Homo sapiens: one gene and its partners. The protein of the gene in region 3 interacts with the protein of the main gene of each other region in a pairwise test. Each region holds a gene or a part of one and is shown on either strand. Other genes may lie near its edges.

Evidence for each region.
Region 1: the proteins of PDE6H (region 3) and COTL1 interact in binary tests that used the Homo sapiens proteins (3 or more experiments, as listed by UniProt).
Region 2: the proteins of PDE6H (region 3) and POU6F2 interact in binary tests that used the Homo sapiens proteins (3 or more experiments, as listed by UniProt).
Region 4: the proteins of PDE6H (region 3) and CHAT interact in binary tests that used the Homo sapiens proteins (3 or more experiments, as listed by UniProt).

What each region holds. Positions count from the first base shown.
Region 1 is NC_000016.10:84,565,672-84,573,447, forward strand, and holds part of COTL1 (coactosin-like protein), read right to left. Parts: intron 1,285-7,776; coding exon 1,174-1,284; 3' UTR 1-1,173. UniProt on the Homo sapiens protein: Binds to F-actin in a calcium-independent manner. Has no direct effect on actin depolymerization. Acts as a chaperone for ALOX5 (5LO), influencing both its stability and activity in leukotrienes synthesis.
Region 2 is NC_000007.14:39,337,377-39,345,152, reverse strand, and holds part of POU6F2 (POU domain, class 6, transcription factor 2), read right to left. Parts: exon of another isoform or gene 6,033-7,776; intron 5,512-6,032; coding exon 5,138-5,511; intron 1-5,137. UniProt on the Homo sapiens protein: Probable transcription factor likely to be involved in early steps in the differentiation of amacrine and ganglion cells. Recognizes and binds to the DNA sequence 5'-ATGCAAAT-3'. Isoform 1 does not bind DNA.
Region 3 is NC_000012.12:14,975,529-14,982,628, reverse strand, and holds the end of PDE6H (retinal cone rhodopsin-sensitive cGMP 3',5'-cyclic phosphodiesterase subunit gamma), read right to left. Parts: intron 4,658-7,100; 5' UTR 4,617-4,657; coding exon 4,483-4,616; intron 3,451-4,482; coding exon 3,410-3,450; intron 1,230-3,409; coding exon 1,153-1,229; 3' UTR 764-1,152; downstream 1-763.
Region 4 is NC_000010.11:49,623,557-49,631,332, reverse strand, and holds part of CHAT (choline O-acetyltransferase), read right to left. Parts: intron 5,861-7,776; coding exon 5,680-5,860; intron 3,726-5,679; coding exon 3,548-3,725; intron 1-3,547. UniProt on the Homo sapiens protein: Catalyzes the reversible synthesis of acetylcholine (ACh) from acetyl CoA and choline at cholinergic synapses.

The DNA of each region.
Region 1 (7,776 bases), on a different chromosome or scaffold from region 3:
GTACAGATTTCTTCCCCAAAACGAAATGAGCAAGGAAAAACAGAAAAAGAGCTATATCAAATGTGCTCATGAAGAACCAAGCCAATCTCACCTTTCTTTAAAAACAAAACAAAACGATCCTTTTGAATGTGTGGTGCAGACGCAGGACTGAAGCCACAGGCTTTTGGGGTGCTGTGAGCCCAGGGCTTTGCTCAGCTCACAGCTAGCGCGGCGGGCAGAGCAACCCTTCGGCCCAAGCCATCCTCGCAGCTTACACAGAAGCTTCCTGAACCTAAGGGATCCGTTCCCAGCTCTCCTTAAATTCCCAGTCCCCACCCTGGGCCTCTCTCCCTAACGATCTTGTCGCTTTGGGAGCCCCTGAAGTGAACCCTGAAATACTCCCTCCGTCAACTCTGGGCTCAGACCTTTGCCCTTCTCTGTGTCACAAGGAAATTTCGGTCAAGAGGGTGGGAACAGGTGGTTTCAGACCGTGCAGCAAAGCCACTGCCAGGTAAGTTTTAAGGCAAATTTTATCTCTTCTTATTCAGTCTGAGCCGGACCTAACCTTCTCACCACCGAGCAATCCTGCCTATGCTGGACATGCATCTTAGGCAACTCCGGATGGAGGTGGGATGAGGGAGCCCGGGGCAGATACCAGGAGGTCTGGGCCTTAGTAGGGAATGGACGTGTGTGCTTATGAAGGCTGCAGGCACCGGGCACAGCTCCTGGCCCAGCTGCCCCTCAGTGGTACACAGGAAGCAGGGTCCAGGAAAACTGAGATGGCAAAATAGGCCCGGGCTCTGGAAAGCAACGTGAGGTCATGCAGATCTCACTAGGCAGACCTCGTCGCGTGGAAGAGAAATGCCAGGAAAAGGGGTCACTGCAGGAGGCACCTCGGATCTGATGGCAGGCAGGACCTTGCATCAAAATGACTTTTCTTTAGAACAAAAAAGAGGGGGAGAAAAGAAAAAGAAGATCAAAGAAAGAGGTTCCATGAGCGTCATGAGATAGGACACGGCAGGGTTCTAAGGGAAGCGGGAAGGTGGGGGCTGTGGACACAGGGTGGCGGGCGCTGCCTCTCATGGCTTCTTTTCTCCCTGGTGGGCTGGTGGGCTAGTAGCTGAGGCCGGCGGTCCTCTCCCCCGGGGAGCAGGCAGATGACTTTGGCAAGGGGTGGTGTGGCGGGGGCTGGGGTTACTCCGTCTGGGCGTCGTAATTGGCTCCCCCCGCCTTCTTCAGCTCGCTCTTGATGAAATCTTCCTCCAGCTCCTTCCGATCACTGATCACAAACTCCTTAGCGAAATTCTGCAAGAACAAAGGAAAACACAGCGTTCCTATTAAGAAGGAAGGCACAGGATGTGAGGGTGGCTCAGGCAACACACTGGGAAGCAAAGCACTGAAAACCCTGATGAGAGATGGAAATGGAAATTCAGCAGCAGAGTCAGTCAATGGAAATTCAGCAGCAGAGTCAATGGAAATTGAACAGCAGAGTCATCTGGCAGAAAAAACCTGACTGGGAGGAGGGAGTGGGGCAGATCTGATGCTGCGTCTTCCCATGTCCGTGGGGATGGCCCGAGGAAGCTGGGGCTTGAATTTGGGCTGTTACCTTGGCCAAGTCCCTTCAATTCTCTGTGCCTCAACTTTCTCATCTGTAAAAAACTATCTCGTCAGGAAAATAATAGGTTACGAGGTTGGAAAGGCTCACGGGTGTGCAGGCACTCCAAAAAAAAGAAAAGGACAAAAGCTCAGATTGGTGTCTTTTGCCCATATCCATGATGTAAATAGTCCCCCAGTGGCTGACGTCAAGCTATCAAAGTGATGTCACCATACGTGGAGGTGGAAGGAGACAGGCGTAATTGGCTCTCGCCAGCTGGGACAAGCAAGCTTCAGCCACCAATGTTCCTAATGACGCAGGAGCCTCCAGTCCTGGGTCTGCCATGGGCTCTCCACCCGCACTGAGTTACACGAGGGTAGAGGCTCTGCCTTCTTTCAACAAATACCACGCCAGGCTGTGGGGCTACAGGGCTCAGCAAAATGGATGCAGTCAGTCTTTCCTCTTGCAGTACACAGGTTTCACCCATAGAACCCGCAGGCACCCATGATGCACTCAGTAAACGCTTGTGGCATGAATGAGGGAACCAGGTGACCTGGCTTATCAGACACCCTTAAGCCATGATGATACACAGTTACTGCCATATGTGGATCATAAGACTTTAACAAACAAAATTTCAGAACGATGACGGACAGCTTGACAAAAAAAAGCTATCAAAACCACAAATAACACGTCTAAAGGTAAGAAAATCATCCACATTAAAAAAAAAAGCCCATAAGGAAATAACATAAACAATGACCACCATTTTTCTTTTTCTTGAGAGAAAAGCCTGTTGCCCAGGCTGGAGTGCAGTGGCGCAATCTTGGCTCACAGCAACCTCTGCCCCCAGGGTTCAAGCCATTCTCATGTCTCAGCCTCCCAAGTAGCTCGAACTACAGGCGTCTGCCACCACACCCAGCTATTTTTTGTATTTTTAGTAGAAGCAGGGTTTCGCCACATTGGCCAGGCTGGTCTCAAACTCCTGGCCTTAAGTGATCCGCCCAGCTTGGCCTCCCAAGGTGTTGGCACTACAGGCGTGAGCCACCACGCCCGGCTAACCACAATTATTAAGCACTTATGTGTACCAGCACAGTGCCACAGTACTGAGAATGACACACAGTAGTAAATATGAATCATGGAAGGTGGAAGCAACCCCTATGTCCATCAACAGAGGAGTGGATTATCAAAACACGGTCCGTCCACACAATGGAATATTCCTCAGCCACAGAGAGGAATGAAGCGCTGCCACACGCAACTACATGGATGAACCTCGGAAACAGGATGCTGAGTGAAAGAAGCCAGGCATGAAGACCATGTACTGTCAGCTGCCATTGGTATAAATGTCTAAAAAAGGCAAACCCATACAGACAGAAAGCAGACTCGTGGTTACACAGAGCTGGAGATGGGAACAGGAAATGATAGAGACGTTCTAAAATTGGGATTGTGGTAATGGGTGCACAACTCCACAAATTCACGAAAAAGTACTGAAAAAGTACACTTAGGATGACTTGATTTTGAGGTACATACATCATACCTCAATCAAGTTCTTTTTAAAAAGGCCCGTAAGGTGATCAACATTATTTCCATTTTAAAGGTGAGGAAACAAAGGCTGGAAATTACAATGCTTGTCCGAAGTCAGACAACCAGAAGGTCCAGTTGATGCCAAAGCTGGCGTCTTGAAAGAGCCACCATCTCCTTTTGGGGTGATGAAAAAGTTTTGGAACCAGACAGAGGTAGGGCTTGCACAACACTGTGAATGTTCTGAAAGCCACTGAATTGTACACTTTAAAATGGTTCAGGCCAGGTGCGGTGGCTCACGCCCGTCATCCCAGCACTTTGGAGGCCGAGGCAGGCAGATCACCTGAGGTCAGGAGTTCGAGACCAGCCTGGCCAACATGGCGGAACCCCATCTCTACTAAAACTACAAAAATCAGCCGGGCGTGGTGGCGGGCGCCTGCAATCCCAGCTACTGGGGAGGCTGAGGCAGGAGAATCGCTTGAACCCGGGAGGCGGACGTTGCAGTGAGCCAAGATCGCGCCACTGCACTCCAGCCTGGGCGACAGGGTGAGATCTGTCTCAAAATAAATAAATAAACATAAAAAGGTTCATTTTATGTTAAATGAATTCCACCACAATTAAAAAATAAAAAACAAAAAAGTCGCCATATTGCCAAGAATGATGAGCCCAGGAGCATCCCGAAGTCAAGCTTTACAATAAAAAGACAATGCATTTGGCGCGCAAAGCCACTGAGAACACTAACAAAGTGGAGAACGGGAGGTTAATTTTTATCAAGCAGCTGATGTGTGCCAGGAACAGCCTCACTCATGTTCTCGTTCAGCCCTCAGTATATTAACTTTATTTTATTTTACTTTTTGAAGATAAGACTCATGGGCTGGGCTTGGAGAGATTTGCCCAGAATGACAGAACACCCTTGAGATCCTTTCTGTTCCCACCCCACTACAGTGTGTTACTAAGTGTATGTGATCCGTGCAATGAAAGAACACAAGTTGGATGTAAGAGCCAGAAAGGAGAATTGAGAATTAATGTATTTCTCAACCCTGAGCCCCACGGCATGAGGGAGGGGCAGAGAGCTTTCAGAAGGAGGAAGCCAACAGCTTAAGATGCTTATAGAAGAAAAGTCCAAAGTTCCTCTGCTTTGTGATAGCTATATATGGCAATCTACAGAAATAAGAACACTTGAAGTTCCAGTCGGTTAGCTATTAGAAGATTTAGATTAAGAAAAATAAGTTTGAGAGCCATGGATGGTGGCTCATGCCTGTAATCCCAGCACTTTGGGAGGCTGAGGAGAGCAGATCATGAGGTCAGGAGATCGAGACCAGCCTGGCCAACACGGTGAAAACCCTAATCTACTAAAAATATAAAAATCAGCTGGGTGTAGTGGCGCGAGCCTGTAATCCCAGCTACTCAGGAGGCTAAGGCAGGAGAATGGCTTGAACCTGGGAGGCAGAAATGGCAGTGAGCCAAGATGGCGCCACTGCACTCCAGCCTGGCAACAGAGCGAGATTCCATCTCAAAAAAAGAAAAATAAGTTTGATAAGGTCTAAGAAATCTCAAATGAAAGATACATGGAGCTAGGCACAGGTCAACCTAAAACCACAAGTACTTAGGAAATCAAATTATAATGAAACAAAAACAAGCAAAACAGACAGCAGATCTAGTAAAACATAACAATAAATGTAAATGAACAAAATTATCTTTAAAAATGCTATGTTTCAAACTACAAAAAAAAAACCCTCAAACCTTGTACTACATACCAGAGACATATTTAAAATCAAAAGATTAGCAGAAAAATGATTCCAAGTTATACAAACAAAAGTATATACAAAAGCAACCATATGATCTCTGAAAACATTTAAAGCAAACTGAGTCTCACAAGATAAACAGGGTCATCCTGCAACTTGATAACCCTCCTGGCTCAGCTGATGTTCTTTCCTCTCTGCTCGGTAGAAAATAGAATGGAAGGTTATTTTCCCTGTTGAAGGGCTGTTTTTATCATCAGTACTTAGAGAGGTCTTAAAAGACAAGTCGTCCAGCAATCCGATTACTGCCAAAAAGCAAAGGGTTAGAAAGCAAGTGTCTTAACACACTGAACTGGCTCATACCTAAAAGTCCTGTATTCCTATTTCGTTTCCAATTTATCCTCAGGGGAACACAGAGAGAATGTGCAAAATTGAGTCTTCCCTCATTCCTGCTTTTTTTTTTTTTCCTTTTTTGCCTCTTCCAATGACCAAGAAAGACAAAACTTTAAACATTTCTGAAGATACAGTGACCATGGCCATGCTCTAGGCCCCTTTAGAACAGACCCCAGATTCTCTGTTCGGAAGAATCCTGACATACTGCCTCCAGGGGTGGGCTGAAGACCTTGTATTCAGACATGAGCCTGTTGGCTCCCTTCACCTTCAGTCTGGCTGACAGCTGGTGCATTTGGCTCTGCTCCCGTCCTCACACGAGAGCCCCCGCCGCGTGACTGCCAAGGTGTACAGCCTGGGACTCGATGCAGCCCACGCCAGTGCAAAGCCGAGCAGAGAGAAGGGATGGACGGAGGACACTGGAGGTCCGGGCTCCCTCTGGGCCTTAGTATCACCATGGCCTCATAGACAGCAGGGTTGGTGGTCCTTAGAGGTCATCTCTTGCCCCTCAATTCAGAAGGGGAAACTGAGGCTCGGCGAGTGACACCATGAGGCTGGTTAAGCGGCAGTCATGCCCCAGCCCACTGCTCTCCACCCTTGCACCTGGGTCCGCTCATCTCTCCCCCCTGCCCATCAGCTTCCCTCCCCTCTTTGTGTCTCCTCCTCGTGCTGCTCCTGTGTCTTGTCCACCCCTTCCCCGTTCTTTGAGCCTGGCAGTGACTCCTAGCACCTTCCAAATAAAGTGTCTACATCTCCATCCAATCATCCCCCTGGGATCGGCTCCCCGCTGTCACCTCACCGGCAGACTGGTCATGCACGGGCCCATTGCCTGGACGTCACGTGGACACATGGGTGAGACGGTGAGACGGGCCTGTGACCAACAGTGGTCAGTTCCCTTGCAGCCAGAGCTGGACCCCAGCCTGCTCCTGAGTGGACACCGAGCCGCTCCCACCTTCTATAGGGCCAGCAGCAACTCTGCAGGGGCCCAGGTGGTCAGGCCGCATGGAGGGGGTACTAGCAGGCCTCCATCCTACACGGGGTGCTCCCAAGCCCCCAGAGGCTTACAAAGGTGAGCCAGCACCTTCCATTCAGGGCGTGGACTCCACAGAATGTCCCCAAAATGTCTAACCTGAGCCTCAGCCTAAAAACCAACTGACAACAACCTCCACACCTCTCCACCTCCACGCCTTCCAGCGGCTCCCATGAGATAAGGGAGTTGCAAGCACCACTGGGGAGTGGGCTTCATTGCATGTTTTCAAAACGAGGCAGAAGCTGAGCAAAACAGCTCTGGGCAGACAGACTCTGACTTGGGAGCAATGCCTGAAACTGGAGGGAGCCTGCGTGGAGCAGCTGAAGTCTGCCTTGCACCTGAGGCTGGAAACCAGAGGGAACATATGCATGCAAAGCGTGGCCACCCCTACACCACACACACCTCAAGACACAGCACTTGCCAGCACCCACATGCCACCAACACCCACGGGGGCAGGGGCAGGTGGCAAGACTCAGGAGGCAAGTCCTTCATCAGAAGGAGACTTCCAGGGCCTAGAGCAATGCGGACACACACAGAATGTTAATTTCTCTTTTTTTGAAACACAGTCTCACTCTGTCACCCAAGCTGGCGTGCAGTGGTGCGATCTCGGCTCACTGCAGGCTCAACCTCCTAGGTTCAAGCGATCCTCCCACCTCCGCCTTCCTAATAGCTAGAAATACAGGCACAAGCCACCACGTCCAGCTGATTTTTGTATTTTTCTGTAGAGACGTGGTTTCGTCATGTTGCCCAGGCTGGTCTCCAACTCCTGGGCTCAAGCGATCCACCCATCTTGGCCTCCCAAAGGCCAGAATTTTGAATTTTCTTTCTTTCCTTTTTTTTCTTAGACAGGTCTCACTCTGTCACCCACGCTGCCAGGCTGGAGGGCACTGGTGCAATCTCAGCTCACTGCAACCTCCACCGCCTGTGCTCAAGCAATCCTACCACCTCAGCCACCGAAGTAGCCGGGACTACAGGTACACACCACCATGCCCGACTAATTTTTTTTTTTTTGGTAGATAATGGGGTTTTACCATGTTGCCCAGGCTGGTCTCAAACTCCTGAGATGAAGTGATCCACTGACCTCGGCCTCCCAAAGTGCTAGAATTACAGGCGTGAGCCACTTTGCCTGGCCGGGAATTTTCAATTTGCTACTAGCCACATTGAAAAATGTAAGAAAGAAACCAGTGCCATTTATTTTAATAGTATTTTATCTAATCCAATATATGCAAAATATTGTCATTTCCACAATGTAATCAATGCTAAAAGGTACTGACGAGGTCCTTTACATTCATTTCTTTTGAACCCAGCCTTAGAAACGCTGTGTGCCCTCCGGGTATACGGCACACACTGATATGGCTGGGTGCGCTTTCAGGCGCTCAGTGGCCACACGTGGCCAGCAACAGCGCAGGTCTAGACAGAACACGAAAGCGTCTGAAAGAATAATGTGATCAGGCAAACAGAATCATGAATCGCAGAGCATTAGAGCCCATCCGACAGGGGTGGACATCTGCGCCATGTCCAGATCT
Region 2 (7,776 bases), on a different chromosome or scaffold from region 3:
ATGACTGATTTTTTTCTTTTGCCTCAGACTCCAATATGGCTCAATACTGTTACTGATCCTGCATTTAAAAATTTGAAATTTTGTTGTTCATAGACTTTTGGCGTTCATTTTGATTTTTGAAAATATTTCATTCAAACATTATCTGAATTTTTGAGTACACCCTTAAATTCTGCATCTGAGATGAGTGCTTCCAAGCCTCACCATCATCTCAGTCCTGGCTAGGAGAATTCTGCGTAGTGATTTAGCCCTGTGTAGGTAGAGAGATGTCTGAGTTCTATATTTACAGTAGCCACACAAAGGAGTTATATGAATACACCCACAGAGTCACCCAACTCTACACAGTTTTAGGGGTTTGTAACATAAAACTCCAATGGAACTGAAGGAGTTCTAGAAAGTATTTAATTTTACCCCCTCCCTTTTATAGATGAAAAAACAAACCTAGTCCCACAGAGCCTTGAGTAATATTGTGGTAAACCGATTAAGACTAATTGCTGGGGGGGGAGGGGGTTTGGCCTAGGACACTGGGTCTTTTCCATAGGGCAGACCCATGATTGGAGACCATTTGCTTTAGAGAACTTGAAAGTCCCGTAGGTCTAGCTCCTTCCCAAGGCTTTGGGCTCTTTATTTTAAAAAGTGATAATGTACCACCTTCTCCCATTATGTATGCACTTTGGAACTTAGTACTAAGTTTGCCAGTGGGAAAATATCTCAAATGGGAAGACCAGAAGGCAATGCCCACTGCGCAACAGAGGTGGGATTCCGATGCAGTTTTACTCTGCTGTGCCTGAGTGGTAACTAGACCTTTCCATTAGCAAATGCACATGGTTGAGAATACATTTCACGCTCTCAAGCAACTTCACCTCCGAGGAGGTGACCGTGCCCCTCATTCCTCATATAAGCACAGATAGTTTTCACTGTCCAATTCCTACTGATCTCTCTCTCCCTCTGTTATTTATTAAAATGTGCAATAGAACAAGAAAAGGAAAAGATTATCCTGCGTCCTGCCATGCAAGATGGTACGTGGGAGGCCAAGGTTAAATGCAGCATTTGGTTTCTTAAGCTTCTCTAATGTATAGGTGTGGAAAAGCAATCTGGGACCAGAGCTTATAGCAGTGACTCTCTGAGGATAAAAACTTGACTTTAATTTGGACTCTCTGGCTAAGATAAAATCTGCTTCTGCTATCATTATCCCACTTATGTTTGTCCTCCACTCTCTTTTCACTCTGCCACCCAGCTGAGTGGGAAGAAATTAACCTGACCTTGAAGAATACTCAGAGAATCTTCAGGACCATCAAGTTTTCAATAGCCAATAAAATTCCAGAGGCCTACTAACATTGAGATTATAGATTCATAGGCCTGAAAAAGACCTCAGACCACACGGATGAGGGAAATGAAGTCCAGAGAGCTAAAGTGACCTATCCAAAGTTATGAGTTAGTTGGAGGCAGGGTCAGAACTAGAAGGGGGACTCAAGCCCTCCGGTTACCCTCTTCCACCTACACCATGACTGGGCTCCAACCATGCCCAGCATATCTCCAGACCACTCAAGAGGGAATATGTGCACAATAGGGCTTTTATAAGATGTCTGAAATTTTACCAGTGCAAATAAAAACTCCCAAGGAGTTTTCTTTTCAAGAAAATTCTTCTTAAAGGTCATAGAAAGGAGGCTTTTATTTCACCATTCTTATGCTTATGGGGTCTCTATCCAGATTAAAATTACGTATTGAATTTTTTTTTTTTTTTTACCTAGATCATGTTTTTTGCCCCAAAAGATTGCTTCCATTTATGTTTCTGCTTCTATCAAACACAGTCTATATTTTTAGTTTTAGATTCAGGCACAGCCTGTGGACTGTGGGTTTGAGCAAAAATAAGGAGTATGGACTGCTCTCCATCCTGGCACCCAAGGACTAAATTCAGCTCACAGTGCATCTTGTTTGTCCCACACACTGTTTTTATAAATTTGATTTTGGGTTCTACAACCAAGATTACTTTACTTATTTACAGGGACTGCTAGGCCCTGAAGACCTCTGCCCTTGCATTTCCTGTCTAGAACTTCTCTCCTCAAGCCTCCTGGGCAAGAACGAAGCCATGGGTGGGTGGGTCCTGAGTCTCAATGGAGAATCTATAGACAGATCTCCAGGGGCAGCTTCTAGAGTCTGCTTTAGACCACCAGACCTCCTATAATGCTGAGTGATCAAAATTAATAAACAAAGTGATCCCCCTACCTGTGCGTCTCTGAAAGGATAATACTTTAGACTCCTATCTATCTTAAAACAACTTGGTTTTGTAAATGTAATCCTTTTCACAGAATTCAGTAAAAGAGTAAAATAAAATTACACTGCAATATTGCAGAAAAGCCTGATACGAGGTATTTGGATAATTTTTGTTTAGAGTGTTACTACCTACCAACACTATTAATTTTTTTTCATCTCAGGAAATGACCTCACCCAAATATAACACACAACCTACTTACATTTATTTTTTTCTAAAGATATGGGAGCATCTGCACAGTTTTAGAAATAATTGTTGTCCTCCAAAGTTTTGTTTTTAAAGCAAAAAACCTAATTGACTGGCTTTCCCTGGTAATCTACATTGCATAGTTCTAAACTAATATCTCTCCAGCAGATTTTTGAATAATGTAAAAAGATAAAGCCCACATGAAAATAAAGGGTTGTAAAATAAAATTTAGGCTATCATACATGAATTTAGTTGATCTTTATTCCCTTAATAATCTTCAAACAAAAACACTTTATAAAGATCATTAGTTTGGAGAGTTAAATATCTTTGCAATTCCTTTTAAACAGTTTTCTTTTTAAAAAGTTCAAACATTCCATGTTCCACAAACTCAAAAAGCCTGCAGCTAGTGTAAAAATTTTTTTTAAACCAAAATATTCTCTATTTCCTTTATACATGCCTGTAGTAAAGGAAAAAAGTCCTTTTATGCCTACCGACACAGATTTGTTTAACATCTTCTCAGTAATGTTTTAAAAAAAATTTGTAGCAAGTCACTCATTTGGTGGTCATCTGTTAGATCCACAGAAGTTAGAGTAACAGCTCCTCTATATTTAAATGTACTCTAAACATATTTATTAAGTTTATAAGTTAAAACTTCAAAAATGAAAAATTAGAATATTCTCTCAGTGTTACAAAGAAAGAAATGTAGCTCTGAGCCTTCATTTGTTGCAAAACCAAAACAAAACAAACAGCCCTGGGATTTCCACGAGAAACTGTTAGGAGAACTTTCGGAAATTCCCCTAAGTTTATTTTCATGAGGCTGCGTGGTCACTTCATCTAAAGTCCTGTCAACAGTCATTCAACAGGGCTTGTCTTCACTGGGATCTCACTGGCCAACAGAAATTTATAAAACACTGACAGTGTTCAGGGAAGGCTGAGGTCCACAGAGCTCAAAACTTTCACCTAACAGGAAGGAATACTGGACTATATCGGACAACTGGGGACACACCTAAGTAATTTCACTCCTCAAGGAAGGGCAATATTTTTCTTTGGTAATTTTACCTATTTTGGTGCCTGGAATAGAGAAATTAGATGGTATATAGGTACATCTAATGTAAGTGTTCTTAAAAAGCATTAAATTAATTTTTTGGAATAATAAAGTTGAATCCCAAATGCTGCCAACATTAAGGTTGCTGTAATCATGCCTTCTGTAAATTTGATGACACCTGCTCTTTCAGTAGGTGTCAAGTGGACAATGAAGACGTTTTTGGACCATGTTCATTTTAGTCCTAGGTCAAAGGTGTTACGTTGTCTCACCATCGTAAGAATTGTATAAATACATCTTGAAACTCCACTCATGAAAATGTTCAAATTGAAAGTAGCCCTGGCCCAAGAGCCCAGAAAAACACAATGACTCATCTCTCCCAAATGTGTTCATTTCTAGGAATGCTTTGGGCCACACCACTGAGAATCCAAATTGGAAGAGACAAAGCTATGGGACAACAAACTAAGTTCTAAAATACCAAGTCTCTAATCCACCTGCCTTTCTGTCCGTGTACCAACCTGTCTTTATTTTGTATACTTTTCTATTTAGGAGCCAAGGATACCATCGCTACTGTCATTCTCAGGCTGGGGAGAGCCGGACTGACTGAGGTTTATACCCACCACTATGGCAAGGGGATGAGATGGCACTTGAAACAGGTCCACAGGCTGCTCACTCTGTTTAACTTTGTCACAGTACTACAAATACACGAGATTGTCTGAAATCTCACAGGGAAAAATGTCATTGTGCAAGTCAAAGAATGGATGGCTTGGCTGAGTTATTAATTTCTGGATCTGATATGATGACATCACAGTCATTATGTTTTGAAGCTAATTTATTTTAAAGACACCTAAGTTAAAAATGGTTTTCTGAAGTTTAAAGTCATATATATATATATATATATATGAATGCACCTATCCATTCCTTCTCAATAGGTAGGTTATAGATGAGCTCTCATGGTTAGCCTGAAATATCTATTTATGAAGCTCTCAGCCTCACAGTAATAAAGTAAACCTATAGAAGTTTTATTCCTTTATAAAGATGCATATTGGTTGAGGCTCTTGGCATGAATTTAGAGTACTTGTTAGTCTGTGGAGTAATGGTTGGAATCTGGGACATAAGACTGGGGCTAAATTTCTTTGCCCTCCTAACCCCAGAGAGTCTTTAGAAAAATAGAAACAAAAGAGCACAAAGTACTTAAGGTGAGACACTGTTGTATTCATAATATAGAGAAATAACCACCATGCCTCATGGACAGTAGATGCAGTTCTCCATGGGGCTACAAAACTGTGCTAGTAATAATTTTAATTGGATGCTATCTTTGCTGCCTTCAAAAAGTATCATAAAATGGAATTATTACAGGCTCCAAATGCACTTATAGTGCTGGCCTCTCACAGAAGGAAACAGATAACATTTATCCTTTGGAGGGCAACAGAAATGGGCTTCTATTTGTTTCGTTTACATGCATCCCCAGTTGCCTTCTAGTTGCTTCTTCTTCCCTATGTCTAAGAGATCAATTTGAATTAGATGCTGCAGAACTGGATGCTAAGTTTTGTGTGGTCCCTCTGCCTTTGGGGATGGCACCACCCCATGGAAAGGTCCTTGGTGCTCCTAGGGGCAGACGGGAAGCACGGGGAGCATACCTGTAGAGGATTGGGTGGCGTGAGCGGTGAAGGCAGGCCATGTCCTGGAGACTGACTAGGTTTCTGCGGGGGGCTGGAGCTCTGCTGGGTTGGAGATGGTTGGTTCTGGTTCTGGGAGTGGGAGTGGGGTTGGTGCTGCTGGGGCTGAGGCGCCTGTTGCAGCTGAGATGTAGGAGCTGGCGGCTGCTGAGAGGCGGGTGGTGGCTGCTGGGGTGGGGTGGGCTGCAGCGGCTGCTGCTGGGACTGCGAGGGCGCCTGTGGGGCTGGTTGCGGGTGCTGGTTGGTTGACGGGGGAGGCTGCTGCTGCTGCTGCTGCTGCTGCTGCTGGAGCTGGAGCTGGAGCTGCTGGAGCTGGGAGTTCAGGGATGAGGTAGCTACAAGGAGAGAAAGCGAATGTGGAGTGAGATAACATGACAAAGTGTCTTGCTGGGTCTTGACAGCCTGTCCAGTGCAAGTGGAGAAGGGTTTCCTTTAGAAAATTCTTGTCCTTGCCCCCTGAAGCTCTTTGGTATTTAAGAGTGTTGTGAGGCACTGGGAGAACAAAGGTCACTTCTGGGGAAAGTTTAGAATTTCTGGAGGACCAGCATATAACACATCAGGCATTACTTTAAAAGGTGGTGAACAATGCAAGCCAAAGGTGTGTGGTAGGAATGGAGATTGTTTTTTAACTACTTTCTCTCTCTCTTCCTTTCCATACTGCATGGGAAATACATTCATGCTTCAAGATTTCATTTAGATTGTTGAAGTCCAACCAGTTTAGTTGTTTTGGTAAGTGTTTGACTGGAGTTAAGAACAAAAAACCAATTGTTTGCAATTGCCTTTACATCCATCATCAATATCATTAATGGTATCATTTTCACTTGCTACTTCAGATCTCCACCCAGTTGCTTAGATGTCTTAGTGTCAAATTTCTAACTGTTTTTTTTTTTTTTTAAAAATTCAAAAGCAGTACATGCTTCTCCATTTTGCAGGGTCAAAAGCCTGAGTCTGAATTTTTTGCCTGCTGATTAAAGAGACAGAACCCCTAAACTGGAGGGATGATAGCAGGTGACTGAACCAAACAGTGTGGTGATTAGACATCAGCACCTGAGGACAGGACAGCACCTAAGGACTGAGGGAATGAAATCATCTTTTAAGATCTTGTTATGAGAAAGGTAGAGTTGGTGGGAGAAAGTGTCTTAGCACTGAGCACGCAAAATTTGTTCTCACATGCCCATGTAGCACTGAACAATTTCTGCAGAAGGAAGCTGGTTAGTTTGACCTAAGAATGGTCTAGAGAAATTTACGGCTAAAAACCAAGTTCACTTTCTTTTTTGCCTAAATCTCAATCTAAAAGCTTTCTAACAAGCCCATGAACAAATAAACATATAAGGATCAATGTCAAACCCACAGGCCTTAGAGGAAAGTGTAGCTGTATTGGTGAAATGACGATGCAACCATTTCCAGGGGTATCAAATACCAATTCTGTGATCTCACATACCATGTAGGGCTTCCAACTTGGTCCAGTTGGGATAGCAAGTCCTCACTGAGCCACTGAACTGCTCTAGGTCTATGCAAGCAGTCCAGTGTGTGGCCTGCCTTGCGTGTAGAGCCAGGGTGTTCTGGGGCTTGTGATGTAATCGTAGAGATAGAGATGGCATGAGGGAGGCCTGGAAAGTACCCCGGCATCATCCCGTTTATTAGACCTTTTAGAGAAAGGCCTGCTTTTGCCATTTCCCCCTTTCTTCTAGTTTACAAAATCACATTTTATCAAAGATGTGGGAGCCCTGCTCTATTCTGACCTCCCTAGATCTTCTGCAGTCTGGAGGATCCTGGGGCAGGGGAGCCTGATCTCTTCTTCTGGTGGAGTTCCAGACTTCAGGGACTTGATTGCATCTGGCCTCCTGCCTGATTCAAATCGAACCTAACCTGATGTCTTTCAGGTGGGGGCACATATGTTAATGCTTATTTCCATGGTTGACTTAAATACCATACTGCTTCATTTTGGTTAGAAAAGCATTTATCTAAATCAGCATTTAGAAACAGGAAAGTCTGGGAATATTGGCAGATAGATGTTGGCAGACGGGTAGGTACAGCAGACCCTAACCTACTAATGAGCCTTGGTCCCAAATATGTCTCCCTTCCTCCATATCCGTAAGTTCATATTGCTTGGGTATTTGTTTTCCATAACAGCAGCTTGACTGGAAAGGCATAAACCTAAGCCTTTGAGTTACATAGACTAATTTGACATCTGCAAGCAAAAAATAATACAGAATTAAATATGTTCAGGTATACACCAGATGCAAAGGAAAGCAGGAGGGGCATATATGAACGTAACTTGGGTCTGAAAAACACCAAAGCCACCTACACACTAACATGAAAATGAGAGTTAAAAAATGTGAAAATATAGTGCATCGAAGTGGCTCATTGTGTAAAGCATAGTGAAATATGACAGAGAAGAATGAGAAAATAAGATGAGTACAGTTAGGAAGGTTCAAGGATGTATTAATATTTGAACTACAAAGAATGTTTGCAGATAAAATGATGCTTGTTGGGGTAAAATTCTGACCCTAAGCAGGGAAGGTTAAAGACTTTACTTTCTTCCCTGGTATTTATTCCCTTTTATGATGGTTTCCTCTCTGTCTTGTTACTATACACGA
Region 3 (7,100 bases):
GCATATAAATCTTTTCAATTGACAGTTTAAAGATTAGATTTACTACAGATGTACACAAAGCAGTCAATGTATGTAACTCCTGTGACTCTCATTTTAAGTCATTGGACAAAATAATTTCACTGAAGGGATGCCGTGGAAGGAAACCTTCCTCAACCAGAGTACCGAAAAGAAGGCTCACATTGTCAGAATTCTGAGTTTAAATCCCAGTTCCTCACCAACTTAGAACTATACAACTTAGAGCTGCATGAGACTTCTGGAATAACCTAGTTCAATAAAATTTAGACCCAGTGGCCGGGCGCAGTGGCTCACGCCTGTAATCCCAGCACTTAGGAAGGCCCAGGGGGGGTGGATCACGAGATCAAGAGATCGAGACCATCCTGGCCAACATGGTGAAACCCCATCTCTACTAAATATACAAAAAATTAGCCAGGCATGGTGGCAGGCGCCTGTAGTCCCAGTTACTCGGGAGGCTGAGGCAGGAGAATGGCATGAACCCGGGAGGCGGAGCTTGCAGTGAGCCGAGATCGTGCCACTGCACTCCAGCCTGGGCGACAGAGTGAGACTCCGTCGCAAAAAAAAAAAAAAAAAAATTTAGACCCGGAAATTATACAATTTACAAACTTACAGAATTCAAATCTTAATGCTATGCTGTTTTGTAAGCACTGCACTTATTTCCTGTATGACTGTGCCTTCTTTGTTTAATTGGTTCTCAGAACACAGCATCAGATATTTCTACGTAGCATTTAATACAACTTCACCAACATTCAAGGTAAATATCTCCTTTATTAAATATGAGGAGGTGGGGAGTGACATAAATGTTGTCTTAAAAGTCTACTATTAATCATAATGAATGCCTAGCAAAAATAGATTTAAAGGACTTACAGATAAACAAAATGTAGAGAAATATTGATGACTTCTAACTAGCTGGTAGGAAAAGGTGGTCAAGTTTGAAATGCATCCACTATTTTGAGCTGTACTGCAAGAGAGATTCTGACAGTAAGAGAACTCTTAGTAGTAACTGATAGGGAATGACCTTGAAAGTCAAAGAAACCACTTCCAATCAGCTGAATTTCAAGACTCCGGCAGATCAACAGGGCAAAAGCAACCAAAATTACAGCAGATGTCATTGAGAGTGGCAGAACCTCTGGCACTTCAGATAATCCCAAACTGAGCGAGCTCATGCAATTCCAGGTGGCTGAATGCCTCCCATGGACAAATCACTGTGATATCTGCAAGAGATGGAAGAAGAGCACGTAAGCCAACCTCACCCCAAGAGAGCTTCTTCACAGAAAGACACCCTTCAGGCAGAGACACTTCACTCCTCTCTCCTGCTCATTGTCCCCTGACTGGGAAGTTCCCTAGCGTGGCCCTGTGGCCCAGGAAGGATCAGACCAATTGCTTAATTGTTGCACCAGGCATCTCTGTTGGTTTCATTCTGCTTCCTCTTTGGGGAGGTGATCCACAGCTGTTGACTGGGGGGTTCCCTGTGGGGTACAGCCCACTGATTACACAGAGTCTCCCCAAACCACAACCACTAAGGAGGAGGCAGAAGTGGAATTCTAGTCAGGCCAAGGGTTAAAATGAAAAAGAGGAGCACTTTGAATCTCCCTGGTCTAGGTATCCATAGTCTTCCCTACCAATCTAGATCGGTTTCTTCTCTAATTGTTCTTCTATTCCTTTACATTTTGAATTGCCTATATCCAATCACATATTGAGAAACGATCACAAAGCATCTTTTAATCCAGCTTCTTGTTTTAGACAATAAGATGTTATTATCCCTGAGTTACAAAGAAGCTTGCTGACACACAGAAAGATGAAATAATTAGCAAAAACCACATAGTTGTAGAGCTGAGACTAGAGCCAGGTCAAAGACCTCAGACCTTCACTCCCTATAAACCTCTTTACATTATTCCAAATACACTGTCAGAGTCAAGCATATCTTCCAGATCCCAAAGCAAATTTGCTGGTCTTGTATGCACCTTGCCAAAATACGGAAGCAGTTGATCTAAAAGAATAGAAAATTTGCTTTATAACATGGCTGGAAAATTCATTCAAGATCCCAGGATTGGTATTTGCCTGCAGAAAGAGACACTGAGGATTGCCTGGGAAGGACACTGATTACTACAAGTGCTACTGTTTATCAAAGGTGTGTTGGATGAGTTGAAAATATGTCCACACAAAAGCCTGCACATAAATATTTAGGGGCATTTTATTCATTATTGGCAAAACTTGGAAGAAACCAAGGTATCTTTCAATAGGATAAAAAACTGTGTATATCCCTACAATGGAGTATCATTCCGTGATTTTAAAAAATGAGCTATCAAGCCACATAAAAACATGGAGAAACCTTAAATGAATATGGTTAAATGAAAGAAGCTAGTCCAGAAAAGCTGTATACTGTATGAGTCTAACTATATGACATTCTGGAAAAGGCAAAACTATAGAGACAGTAAGAACATTAGTGGATGTCTGGGGTTTAGAGAGAGAGAGAAGGATGACCGGGTGGAGCATAGGGCAGCGAAACTATTCTGTATGATACTATATGTACTGCAATATGTACTATAATGGTGGGTACATGGTATTTATCAAAACCCTTAGAACTTTACAACACAAGGGATAAAAACTCTAATTCAAGCTATGGAGTTTAATTAACATACTGCATCGACATTGGCTCATCAAATATAATCACACTAATACAAGATGTTAATAATAGAGGAAACTGTGTAAAAGGGGAGAGAGATGGTAGAGAGGACATATAGGAACTCTACTTTCTGCTGAACTTTTCTGTAAGTCTTAAACTCCTCTAAGAAATAAAGTCTATTAATTTAAAAAATATGCAGTGATTGCATTCATTGTATGATACATAAAAATCTGGTAACCAATTTTTAAAATTATATTGCAGGCATTCAGTATGTAAGATCCTCCTCTGGGTGCTAGAGGATGTGTAAAAAGAGGAAATTGGTAAGGAAGTGGTTTGCCAGGTAGAGTGGAGAGATCTCCAGACCTCACCCTTATTTCCAATAGTTCACTTGGTAGCCTCAGACAAAAGACTGCCAATTCCTGTATGTCTCAGATTTCTCCCTTGAAAAATGAAGTTTGGGGAGATGAATTATGAAAATCTTTCTACCATAAAAGTCTATAATTTATCATTGTATGCCCTCAAAGGTTGTTTGACAAAACAAGAAGGTTTATGAAATTTTGGGCCTACCCTGATTTCTTTTAGGGCTTTTGTATCTGGGCACACATGTACTTATTTCGAGGGTAAATTAAATCCCCACATTTCTATGTCTTCACAGATCTTCTGCCTTGGGTATTTCTCATAACTTTCAACTGCCCCTTGAGGCCTGAAGTATATAAAAAGGCAGAACTCCAAGTGCGAAGTTCTCACTTAAATCAGTGGATGGCTTACCTGTTCCTAGCCCCTCCATTCCTGGAATGTCATCTCCAAATCTATGGAAAAGAATAAAGGAGAAATTAGCTGAGATTAGAGCAAAAGAATTTTGGAGTCACTCACATGGAGAGTTTCTTGATTCAAGGGGGAAGAAGGAGAGGTTTAAGTGTTTGTATGTGAGAAACTCCTTTAGTTTGCCCTGAACTGGAGCAAAGAAAATGTCACTCAGGCAGGTTTTGGTGTATCCCACTGGAGAGATATTTCTCTCCTGTAGGAACTTAACCTAAAACAATTAAGAGTCAGAAAGAACCATCAGTGGGACAACTTAGTCAAGTTTCACTTTTTATAATAAAAATTGAAATGAGAAAGCAATACAAAAGGCATTAAAAATGATGAATTCATCCATTTGTTTACTTATTCAAAATCATTAACTAAGCATCTATTATATACCAGGCATTTTATTAAGCACAGAGAGTTAAGAAGAAAACAGACAAATTTTCTGAGTGGTCTTAGCCTCGGAGAATAGATACAAATAAATAAATATAAGATATAATGTAAGTTATGATAGCTGAATGTACAAAATGCAAACATGAAAGTAATGATAGTTTGTTAAAGAGAGTCAGGAGTAGCTTCAAAAAGAAATTAGCATATGATCTGTGTGTTGAAAAATCAATAGGATTTTGCCAAGGAGAGGAAGAGGAAAATAAAGAACTGAGGATACAAAATTGGAAGACATAAATATAAGCTATATTTTCTGGAAATGGTCAGTGGTTCAGTGTTACAGATTAACGTAGAGGTTGTCTCAGTAAAGAGGAGTGGTCATCAAAAGCCTGCAAGGCAAAGTCAAAGTTTATTGTAAAAAGCCTCTATTTGCCATGTTAAATTCGGCCACAGACCTGGAAGTTGAGAAGGAAAGAATTCCAGGGATAAAGACACAATTCATCAAAGATGGAGTTACAGAGGAAAAGAGAGGATGGAGTGGAAATTTTTGTAAGTCTGTTTAATATTGTGAGCACCAATTTCCCAAAACAAAAGCAGTCTTGTGGGAAAAAGAAAGTAATAGAAAGTTTTTCTTTTCATTTTGGTCTTACCCTTTCACACCTTTCTTTGGAGGTTTACTCTTGAATTGGCGAGTCTGCCTCTGCTTGAACTTGGGAGGGCCTTTGCGTGGGGTGGTAGGACCCTGGTTTGAAGCTGGAGCAGGCAGAGTAGTGTTGTCACTCATTTTAACTCCCCCCGGGCGGCTGATGTTTCCCTTTCAGCCTCCTTAGACAGTGAAAGATAAAAAAAAGAAGATCTTTCAAGTCATGGGGACCATTGGTTATTAGATCTTTATTTCAGGCTGGAGAAGAAAAGTACTTCAACAAGAAAGCTCAGTATTTTGTGTTGACACAAAAGGGGAGAAGTTATCATCTTTAAAAGGGATCTTTAAGAAAACAGAGTATAAATCAATGCAGGCACTTAATGGAATGGAATGGAAACTTACCTTCTGCTACATTACTTACACAATCTATCAGTTGTGTAAACGGACAATTGATAGATTTTAAAACTCAGAAATCTAGGTAGCTATGCTGTTCCCATGGATCTGCCACTGAAAACAATTTTTAAATAAATAAATTAAATTAAAGCTTCACATTAGGTATAACAAATTAAAATTTAAAAATAAATAAATAAAATAGATTTGCCACAAGCATTCTACGTGAATTTATTATGATGCTGTACTTCTCTGTGACTACCAGTTCTGTCAGTTACGAAGAGAGGAAAATGGACTCAGTGATATCTATAGTCTTTTACAGCATCTGCAATTTCTTTAAGCTTTACATATTCTTCCATCCAGCTGTAAAATAACCTGACTCTAAATGTTTATTGAGCATTTTTTATGGCCTCTGTTTTTTTATAGTCCTTCATGTCCTTATAGTTTAAGATAGGATTATTTTGTTTAATCCTCACATGAACCAGAAACTTCTCTCTTAGTTCTGGGAGATGACAGTGTAGTTGTCTGGACAGGAGGACCTCTGAAGCAGGAATACCAACACCCATGAATATATTCAACACATCTTAATACACACGCACATACAGAAGTTAATGAAGGATAATTAAGTAATACGTTTGTGCTTCAACTCTACGTCGAGACATAAGGTTCTTCAGCCCCCACTTTTCACAAATCTTCAATGCCTTCTTCTATCCACACCACGGACCTATCCAATATGGTGTTCTCAGACTTTAATTTGGCTACAGAAATGCACATTGCCATTCTTCAAATACAAATCAAAGAAAATTATTGAAAAAGATAAATTTAAGCAATTAATGTGTCATTTTGGATGACGTTATTTTCTTTCTTCCTTTCTTTCGTAAGAGTTAACAAAACTTGCTCTTGGAAGGAAGATCCTGAAAAGCCCCAGAGAACTCCAAATTGCTTTTGCCTCTTACCCTGAGACAGTCTCCTCTATAAAAACTAGTGTGTGGGGGCTTTGTCTCCATAAGATTCCTTATTTCACCCATTGCAGATTTATGCTAATATTCTTTTTTCTTTTTTTTTAAGAGAGACAAGTTCTTGCTCCATCAGCCAGGCTGTAGTGCAGTGGTGCAATTGCAATCATAGCTCACTACAGCCTCAAACTCCTGGGCTCAAGTGACCCTCCCGCCTCAGCCTCCCGAAGTGCTAGGTTTACAGGCATGACCCATCACACCAGCCTATGCTAATACTGTTAACTGCAAACCTCCCTGACAGTCTTTGGCTCGTGCTAACAATGACTCTCTTTACTGGCCACACTGCATATTCCTGAAACCTCATATTCTATAACTTCCAGTCCATACTGTTTTCTTATTTCCTTGACAATTGGGTTGCAATTATTATCCTCGCCTCCAAGATTTTTCTCTTATTTAAATTCTGATTATTACTAAATTATTACCCTTGCCAGTACCAGGGATGGTGAGATTGGCCAGGACCCTGGACCACCTGCTCATGCTGTGATTCCTTCCTTTATCCCCTACTGGACTAGCTTCATGAGGCTGTCCTTCCAGTCTCAGAACCTACAACAGTGCATGGTGTACAGTAATCATGCCATATATATTATATTTGTCAAATGAGTTAATAAATTAATTTAGAAATTGAACAGGCCAGGCACGGTGGCTCACGCCTGTAATCCCAGCACTTTGGGAGGCCGAGGCGGGCGGATCACGAGGTCAGGAGATCAAGACCATCCTGGCTAACACGGTGAAACCCCATCTCTACTAAAAATACAAAAGATTAGCCAGGTGTGGTGGCGGGCACCTGTAGTCCCAGCTACTTGGGAGGCTGAGGCAGGAGAATGGTGTGAACCCAGGAGGTGGAGTTTGCAGTGAGCTGAGATTGTGCCACTGCACTCCAGCCTGGGCGACAGGGCAAGACCCCGTCTCCAAAAAAAAAAAACAAAAAAAAAAAACAAAAGAAATTGAACAAATACTGTAAACCTTGGTCATGAGATCCTGACCCTTTGACTTCTCCATCAGAGCACAGAGAAGTCATTAGCTTTCAGGCTTTAGGAAATGCACTGCCAGTTCCTCTGCTCACTAAATTCAGTTCCCGTTCTGTGGGCCCTCTCTACCCCCGGTAGACAGGCAAACCTTGTGTCTGTCCCAAGTGTGGTTGGGACCCTGGGAATAGCTGGTGAGCAGCCAAGATCTGCGCTGTGCTCAGAGTGGACCACCAGTAACTGACACATCCCAG
Region 4 (7,776 bases), on a different chromosome or scaffold from region 3:
ACACACAGAGAAGGTGGCATCGACAAGCCAAGGAGAGAGGTGTCAGGAGAAACCCACCTGCTAAACTGTAAGATAGCAGGTGTCTGTTGTTGAAGCCTCCCAGTCTGTGGTACTTTGTTACGGCTGCCTGAGCAGACTTGAACCTGCTGAGCAGACTTGAACACACTTCCTTACTCAGCTCAGATTCCAGCATGACCGTTCTTGGCCACACCTTCACCGTCCCTACCAGTTACACTCACCAACTCTGGCTGAACCTGAGGAGCTGAGCGTTGGTGGGGAAGATCACATAACAATGTTAATTAGCCTCTCCTAAAATGTATCACTTTGAACCTTCATATATGAGCTCAACACAGTCCATAAATCTTATCAAGTTTTTCAAGTCTTCTTTCCCACTTTCCAGGAGGCTATTTCACACAGTCGATTTCATCTTCAACATCCAACTGCCCGCCTCTTATCTCAAGGTTGTGATCTGAGACCAGGAGGTACCAGTTGGGAGCCTCTGCATGCTCCTACCTCTGCTGCCTCAGGCCCAAGCTTTCCACTTCACCCTGTACCAACCAAAGGCCTCTTATTTTCTGAGTTCTATCTCCTTTTGCCTTTGCAAGAATTCCACCCCTCCATTCATCTCCTATCTCTTCATCAATTTCTTTTACTAAATTCCTTCCATACATTTGTCTCTCCTCCTAAAAACACCTCCCTTGACCCTCATCCTCTTTTAGCAACTCCCTCATTTTTCTGCTCCTTTTAGTGTCAAAATGTCTGAGAAAAAGTCGACCATACTCACTGGTTCAACTCACTGACTGCCTCATCGACAATTTCTTTCTGCTGTTGGATCACTTCTGTCAGTGTGCAAGCATTTGTTCTCCTGCTACTCCAGTCTGACCCTCAGTAAGCCCAGTGACAACTTCAGGGTTGCCAAGCCGGGTCCCCTGTGTCCTGTTCCTCCTCCAGCTCTCCACAGCATTCCATGTGGCTGGCCGTTCCCTCTGTCTTGAATCTTTGTGACTCTTCTGGCTTTCCTTTACTTCATGGGCTACTCTTTCTCAATCCCCTTTGCATCCTTCTCTACCTGACCTCCAGGCTCCCTGTTCTTCTGTTTCTAGATTATCTCACCCAGGTCCATGACTTTAAGGATCATTTATGCGCTGATGTCCCTCAAATTTATTGCTCTGTACTGACCTCTCCCTTGGGCTCCAAACATATATATTAAGCTTGACGTCTCCACCCAGATGACCCAAGCACCTCTAACCCAACATGTGTGGCAATGATTTCTCCATCCTGTACCCACTCCCCGACCCTGTTTCCCATCTTACTAAATGGCACTAACATCCACTCACGGCTCGGATAAAAAGCCCAGGAATTGTTCTCGCTTTCAATGGCCTTGACGTCACTGGTCTCTCCATCTTCACTCTCAACCCTGTCCCAAGCTGCCATACTCTTTCACTGGGAAACCGAAATCATTTTGTAAATGGTCTCTCTGTTTCTGTTCCATAGGCAGGGCTGCTCTGGGGAGGGGGGATCTGTGAAGGATCAGTTTCCTGTTGTGTAGATGACACAGTTGGCGCTAACTGGATTAATCGGATTACCCAAGGGGAGGCGCATGTGTCCCCTCCTTTCTGTCGCATTTCCCTCAGAAACAGCACTTCCATTCAGAAAGCCAGATCAAGTGCCATTAACAAATCAATTCTGATCTGCAGCCCAAGTGCTCAGACCTTGGGGCAATCCAGCCAGCCCTGAAGGGCGTGTCTTGGGCCTGGCCTGCTAATAAAGTGGAAACTATGCTGGAGGCAGAGGCGATTATTTTGATGCCTGTCTCTGTCCCTGAAGGGGAGAAGAGTGGGATTTGATTACACCATGGTCTCCCGAGGGAATTAACTCACTGCGGAATGCTAAGTTATTAATTCTCCAGCACGAGGTTAGGTCCGGGAGGGCAGTCAGCTCTCACACCCCTCTTTGGCTCCTGCAGCCCCCTATTTATGACAGCATTCAGGAGGTGCCCAATAATTGGATGAAAGAATAATTAATTGGTAAGTCGGGGAATAAGTCTGGGGCCTGGCATTTTTAATCACCCTTCACTCTTTTATTTAATAAATGTAACTGGGCCCAGACTGTGTTTCTCAGAAATTAAACCAAACAGACAAGGCCCCTGTCCTTCTGACCTTATAGGCAGTGGGTAGGAGGTGGGGGGAAAGGCAGATAATCAGCATTTATCAAACAAATGCAAAGTTGTCCTCAGAGAGTGAGCAACAGAGTCAAGGTAAGCGAACGGGCCACAGTGACAGAGTGTGCGGGAAGGATGCCCAAGGCAGGCCTGAGGCCGGACACCTGGGCTGAGCTCTGCGTGCGGCAAGGAGCCAGCTGGATCTGGGGGAAGACCCTTCTAGAGAGAGACCAGAAAATGCAAGTGGCTGTTAGAAAAAATAGGCCCAGTACATCCGGCTCAGGCCACCTTTGCTGGGCAGCTATTCTCCTCCTCACCCTGGGGGTAAGGTGGGTGTGTCCCTGCTGGGCCTCGGGCTTTGCCCAGGGTTGGTCTGCCTGCCTGGGTACCATCCTTCCCTCCAGCCTTTCTCACTCATGCCATGGGGCTTTGTTCCATTCCCACCTCTTCTAACAGAGCCTTTCACAATCCCACTCGGAAGGGCTCCGTCCCCTCTCTGAAGTCCTGGAGCACGTTTTTGACGCCTGTCTGAAGTGGGTCAGCACTGCATGCACCTGGATGTGAGTCTCCTCCCCATGCCCCCTCTTCCTGTTCCCATCATGGGGCTGCTCTTGGGTAGAGGCCTCAACTCCTTTGTCTCCCATACTCCCTGAGCCAAGCCCAGGGCCCTCAGTAACAGATGTGGAGAGTCTGAATAGATTGCCTGACCCAGTAAAATTCTGAGGGGTAAATAAAGACTCACAGAAGTCTTGCTTCTCATCCAGTGTCTCTAACATGGGCAAGGAAGGAGAGCATTCCATCAGCTCCTGGAATAGGACCAGCTTTGGATTTGAAAGTAGTTTCCAGAAGGGTGATGAAAAATTTTCAAGAATATTCCTGGCTTTCTTATGGGAATGCTTGGAGACTTTCATCAGAACAGTGCCACAAGATAAGGGACAGCTTGAAGATGAAGAGTCCCAGGATGGAGAGATCAGGTGAAAGAGGTGGTGAACCACTTTCCCAGAGGCAGGCTCCATCCCACACCCCCATTCAGCGACTCCCCCAGCCACTATCAGTGAGCGCCACCCACCAGGAAAACACACCTGCTCACTTGCAGCCAGCCTTCCTCCAGCTAACTCCCCCGCCCCGCCCAGTATTCTCAGACATCCCCAATTCCAGCACTAGTTAGTCCCACCAAGAAAGCCAGATACTGTCAGATGGAACACGAGGGCACAAAAGGTGGCTTCGGTGGCAAGGCACTGTGGCTGGCCGCAGGGCATGCTGTGGGCCCTGAGCTCCCACACTATGGCTGATGGGGATGAGGCCCTGGCCCAACCCTAGAGGAGGGAAAGCCAATGGGCACGAGCATGAGATGGGCATGGAGATGTGCTGGGCACTGCGGCTGACCTTTCACGAGGACCGTCCTGGCCTCGGCCCACTCGCTCCTCCCGTCAGACGTCAGCAGGCCAATTGGAGGCAAACGCTCGTCCTCGTTGGAAGCCATTTTGACTATCTTTCTCAACTGAGTGAACAGATCCCCCTCACTGAGACGGCGGAAATTAATGACAACATCCAAGACAAAGAACTGTGGGGTAAACAGGTCAAACATGTCACTTGTTGGGTGGCCCGTGGCACCAGGCCTTCACTCAGCCTTCACAGGTAAGCTTGGGGCAGGGATGCTCAGGCCCAAGGTTCCCAAGGTGTTTGGTGGTTCTAGTCTCAGTTTAGGGACCAAGCCAAGGCTGTTGACTGTGCTGGATTCCACGCTGCCCCCAATCAAAGAAGGCAACATTAAACTTAGCCAAAAGAAAATGTGTTTCATGGTTCACGGAATCCATTATGTTTGTGGGGAATGGAATATAAATTGGCACAGCTACTGTTGGAGGGCAGTGTCTATCAAAACTAAAAATGTGCATACCTATGACTAAGCAATTGCACTTATAAATGCATATTTTAGCCTGAGGCTTAGAGAAACGTACCCGTGTGTACCGGAAGACACGAGGAATGTGCCTCTCGGCCTTGTTTGCAACAGCAAAATGGTAGCAAGAGCCTCACTGTTCTCCAGAAGGGGAATGGCTAAGTGAAATGTGGTGTATATGTCTAGGGCATGTCTACCCAGCCATTGAAAAGAGTGAATTAGCAACAGATAGAGCCACAGTGATGGGCCTTAAACACACTGGTGAGTGGAGGAAAAAAAGCAAGCCAGCAATCATATGCAGAGGAAGATTAAAATGGAAAACCAACACACACCATGCGTGCATGTGCACCTACACATGTGTGCATGTGTGTGCACCTTCACATGTATACCTACATGTGCTTTGTATGTCAGCCCTGTGGTTTTGTCATTTTGTAGCTTTGAAGGCTAGAGCCTTGGGCTTTGTGAAGGGTCTATTCCTAGACCCAGGTCAAGATACACTTTTCAGCTGATTGACATGAGTACCTTGTTTTCCCTTCCCCTCCAACCCCCTAGCAGTGTCTGTATGGCCTGGTCTTGTGCAGGGGCCCAGAGCATGTCTGGAAGAGGTGGATACGGTGGCCTGTGGGAGCTGGGAAATACTTGGCTTGACTTTTGAATGAAGATGGGGAAACGTCCTTGGTCTATGGCCAAGGTGTCAGGTGGGCTGCGAGAGCTCCTAGATGGCCTTCAAATCTAGGAACAGAGGTCACAGCTGCCCTCAGATGTCAGGGCTCCACAGAGCTCCCAACTTACTAAAAATGTGAGGAGAGCCCAGGATCACATTGTAGAGCAAGTACCAGGGGAGTCCCTGGGATGGTTGCCAAACTTGGGTTTTAGCAAAGCAAAAACAAAAACAAAACTGTTTGTCAGAGGAAATATTTATGTGAAGCTCAATATATGGAATATATAGTGCAGTGGGCACAGGGAAGAGGTCAGGAGCCCTCATGCTCAGCCTGTCCCCCAGGACCCATGGGTCCTTGTTGGCTCTGTGGAACCCAGTCTGAGGACCTGAGCTGCAGGGGGTAGAGCATGACCTTAGGGCACTGGCCAGACCCAGGATTCCTTCCCACTCTTGGACAGACCACTTAACTTGTCTGAGTCTCATGTCCTCAACTGTCACACAGAGATCCTAAGGCCCCCTCTGCATGGTCACTGTGAGGATTAAGTGGGATGAATGCATGTTAAGTGCTGAGCCCACAGGCTGACACATGAAAGGTCCTATTTGTCAGTCTGTAACACTGTCTGTCTGTGTGTGGTCTCCAGAAAGGCCAGAGCCTGGGTGACTGCATGGAAAAGAACAGATGTACAGGTGGAGGTCTCGATCATGACCCTCAGTGCATCAGTGCTGAAGTGAGAGTCCAGTGAGGATATTCTCAAACTGACGGCTCTCATTCTTAGAAGGCAACTGGTGGAGAGACATGGGACTGACTGGAAGTAGGGGCCCCACTTTGGAGACATGGTGCCCCAGCTCCCTGTGTGACTCAGGGAAGGAGGCTGAGCCCCCTCGGAGAAGGTAATGGACGTGAACGCATGGCCACTGTATGCTCTGTGCCCTCCCTCACCAAGACAAGGGGTTGCTTACCTGATTGCAGCAGGCTACGATGACGTGCTCAGGCTCCGGCATGATGCTGCTGTTCTGAGCCACCAGCGTGTCCTGGGTATGGCCGGGGAGCCGGTAGGAGGAGAAGAGCCCATAGTATTGCTTCATGCAAAGGGGCTGCCCTGACAGCTGGCCTTTGGCACAGTCAGTGGGAATGGAGTGGCTGAAGGAGAGGAGTGGGAAGGGAGGCAGCCACGAGGGGATGGTGGGTGGTGAGGGGAGACAGAGAATGGGTTTTATTGTAACTTGATCAGGCAAAATGGGGCACAGAACCCAGAACTGCATCATCATGGCAGATGCAGAGCTCAATTCTCCACTTTTTAAAGTAGTGGAGGCCCCATTTCCACAACACGTGGAGACCCTCAGAGTTTTCTCAAACCTCTGCCTCATGCACGGCATGTGCAAAGCCTGCCAGTTAGCCTTCTGCATCTTTGCTTATGCTGATCTTCTCTCGGCGTGCCTTTGCCCCAACCCCAGAACTCAACTGTTCTATTCAGAAAACTCCTTCCCCTCCTTCAAGAGCCTACTCCTTTATCATCTCTTTTAGAAGCCTCTTCTGAGGTCAATGCAGGAAGTTCTTTTTCCCTCTGGTCTCAGCATGCCTTGTGCCTATCCTTCCTTTCTCCCTCCCTTTCTTCCATCCATCCACCCATCCATCTATCCATCATCCATCCATATATCCATACATCTACCATACTTCTACCACGAAACATCCATCCCTCCTTCCACCCACCACCCACTCATCTATCCACCATCCACACATCTATCCACCATCCATCTATCCTTGCATCCACCCATCCATCCACCAAGCATCCATCCATCCTTCCATCGACCCATCCATCCACCATCCACCCATCTATCCACCATCCATCCATCTTTCCATCCATCCATCCATCCATCCATCCGTCCATCCATCCTTCCTTCCTTCCACTCTTTCAGCCAACAAATATTTGTGAAGCACGTCCTCCGTATAGGCCAGGCACCATTCTGGGATGTGGGGATATGGCAGCAAATAAGACATGCAGCTCCTGCTCTACTGGGGTGTAAGTCCTAGGATGTGTAGGTAGGGAGTAGACCACAAGCAGCAAACCAGTGAACAGGAGACTGTCAGGTAGTGAGACAGAGTGTTGGCAGGGACAGGAGGTGGTGACCAGGGGCAGTCTCACTGAGGCAGGTTGATTGAGCTGAGCCCTAAGGGTGAAGTGTCCCAAAGCACTGCAACTCAAAGTATGAGTATTGCACTGAACTGCTGTGACTGACCCATGACTTGGTGTAATGCCTGAACCCAGAAATGTTTGTAGCAATGTGATGGGAGTTTTATGTCTGTTGAATCCTGTAATAAAACATTTGGTCTCATATTTCATACCGTTTTTCTAGTAATCAATTTTTTGTTGTTTTTCACAAATTTTACAAAATGAAAGAAAATATATTGGTTCTTCCCCAGAGGCAGCTTGAGAAGCACTGATCAAAGGCAGAGAGAAGCCAGTGGGGCTGAGGCCCAGTGAAGACAGGGCCAGAGAGGTGGGCAGGCCAGGTCCTGTGGGGCTCCAGTGGCAGTGGAGAGGAGCTATCGCCTTATTCTTGGTGCAGTGAAAGCCCTTGGGAGGCTTTAGCACGCAGGGGCATGACTGGGTTTCCATTTTGTTGTTTTACTGACCCTGCTTATATGGGGAGAATGGACTGAAAGGTGTCACAGGAAGAACAAGGAAGGAGGTTGTGGCAGAGAAGGAACGTGATGTCTTGTGAGGGCAGCAGGGAAGGAGGAGGGAGCTTGGGGACACAGTGGGGAGGGAGAATGACCACATCTGAGCACCATGGGTTACATGAAGGTGCAAGGGAGAAAGCAGAACAAGCACAGGTGACTTCTAGGTTCCCAGACTCACCAACAGGGCATGTGCTGGTGCACTTACGGACATGGCTCGACAAGGTATGGGAGGAGTTGGGGAATGGGGAGGGAGAGGCGAAGCTCTCCTGGCTCATTTGTAATGACTGAGAGACACCCCGGTGGGGATGGCTGAGGCTTGGATGAGCGAGTGTGGGACTCAGGGGAAGGGACACAGCTGTATTTTGTGTCTGTTT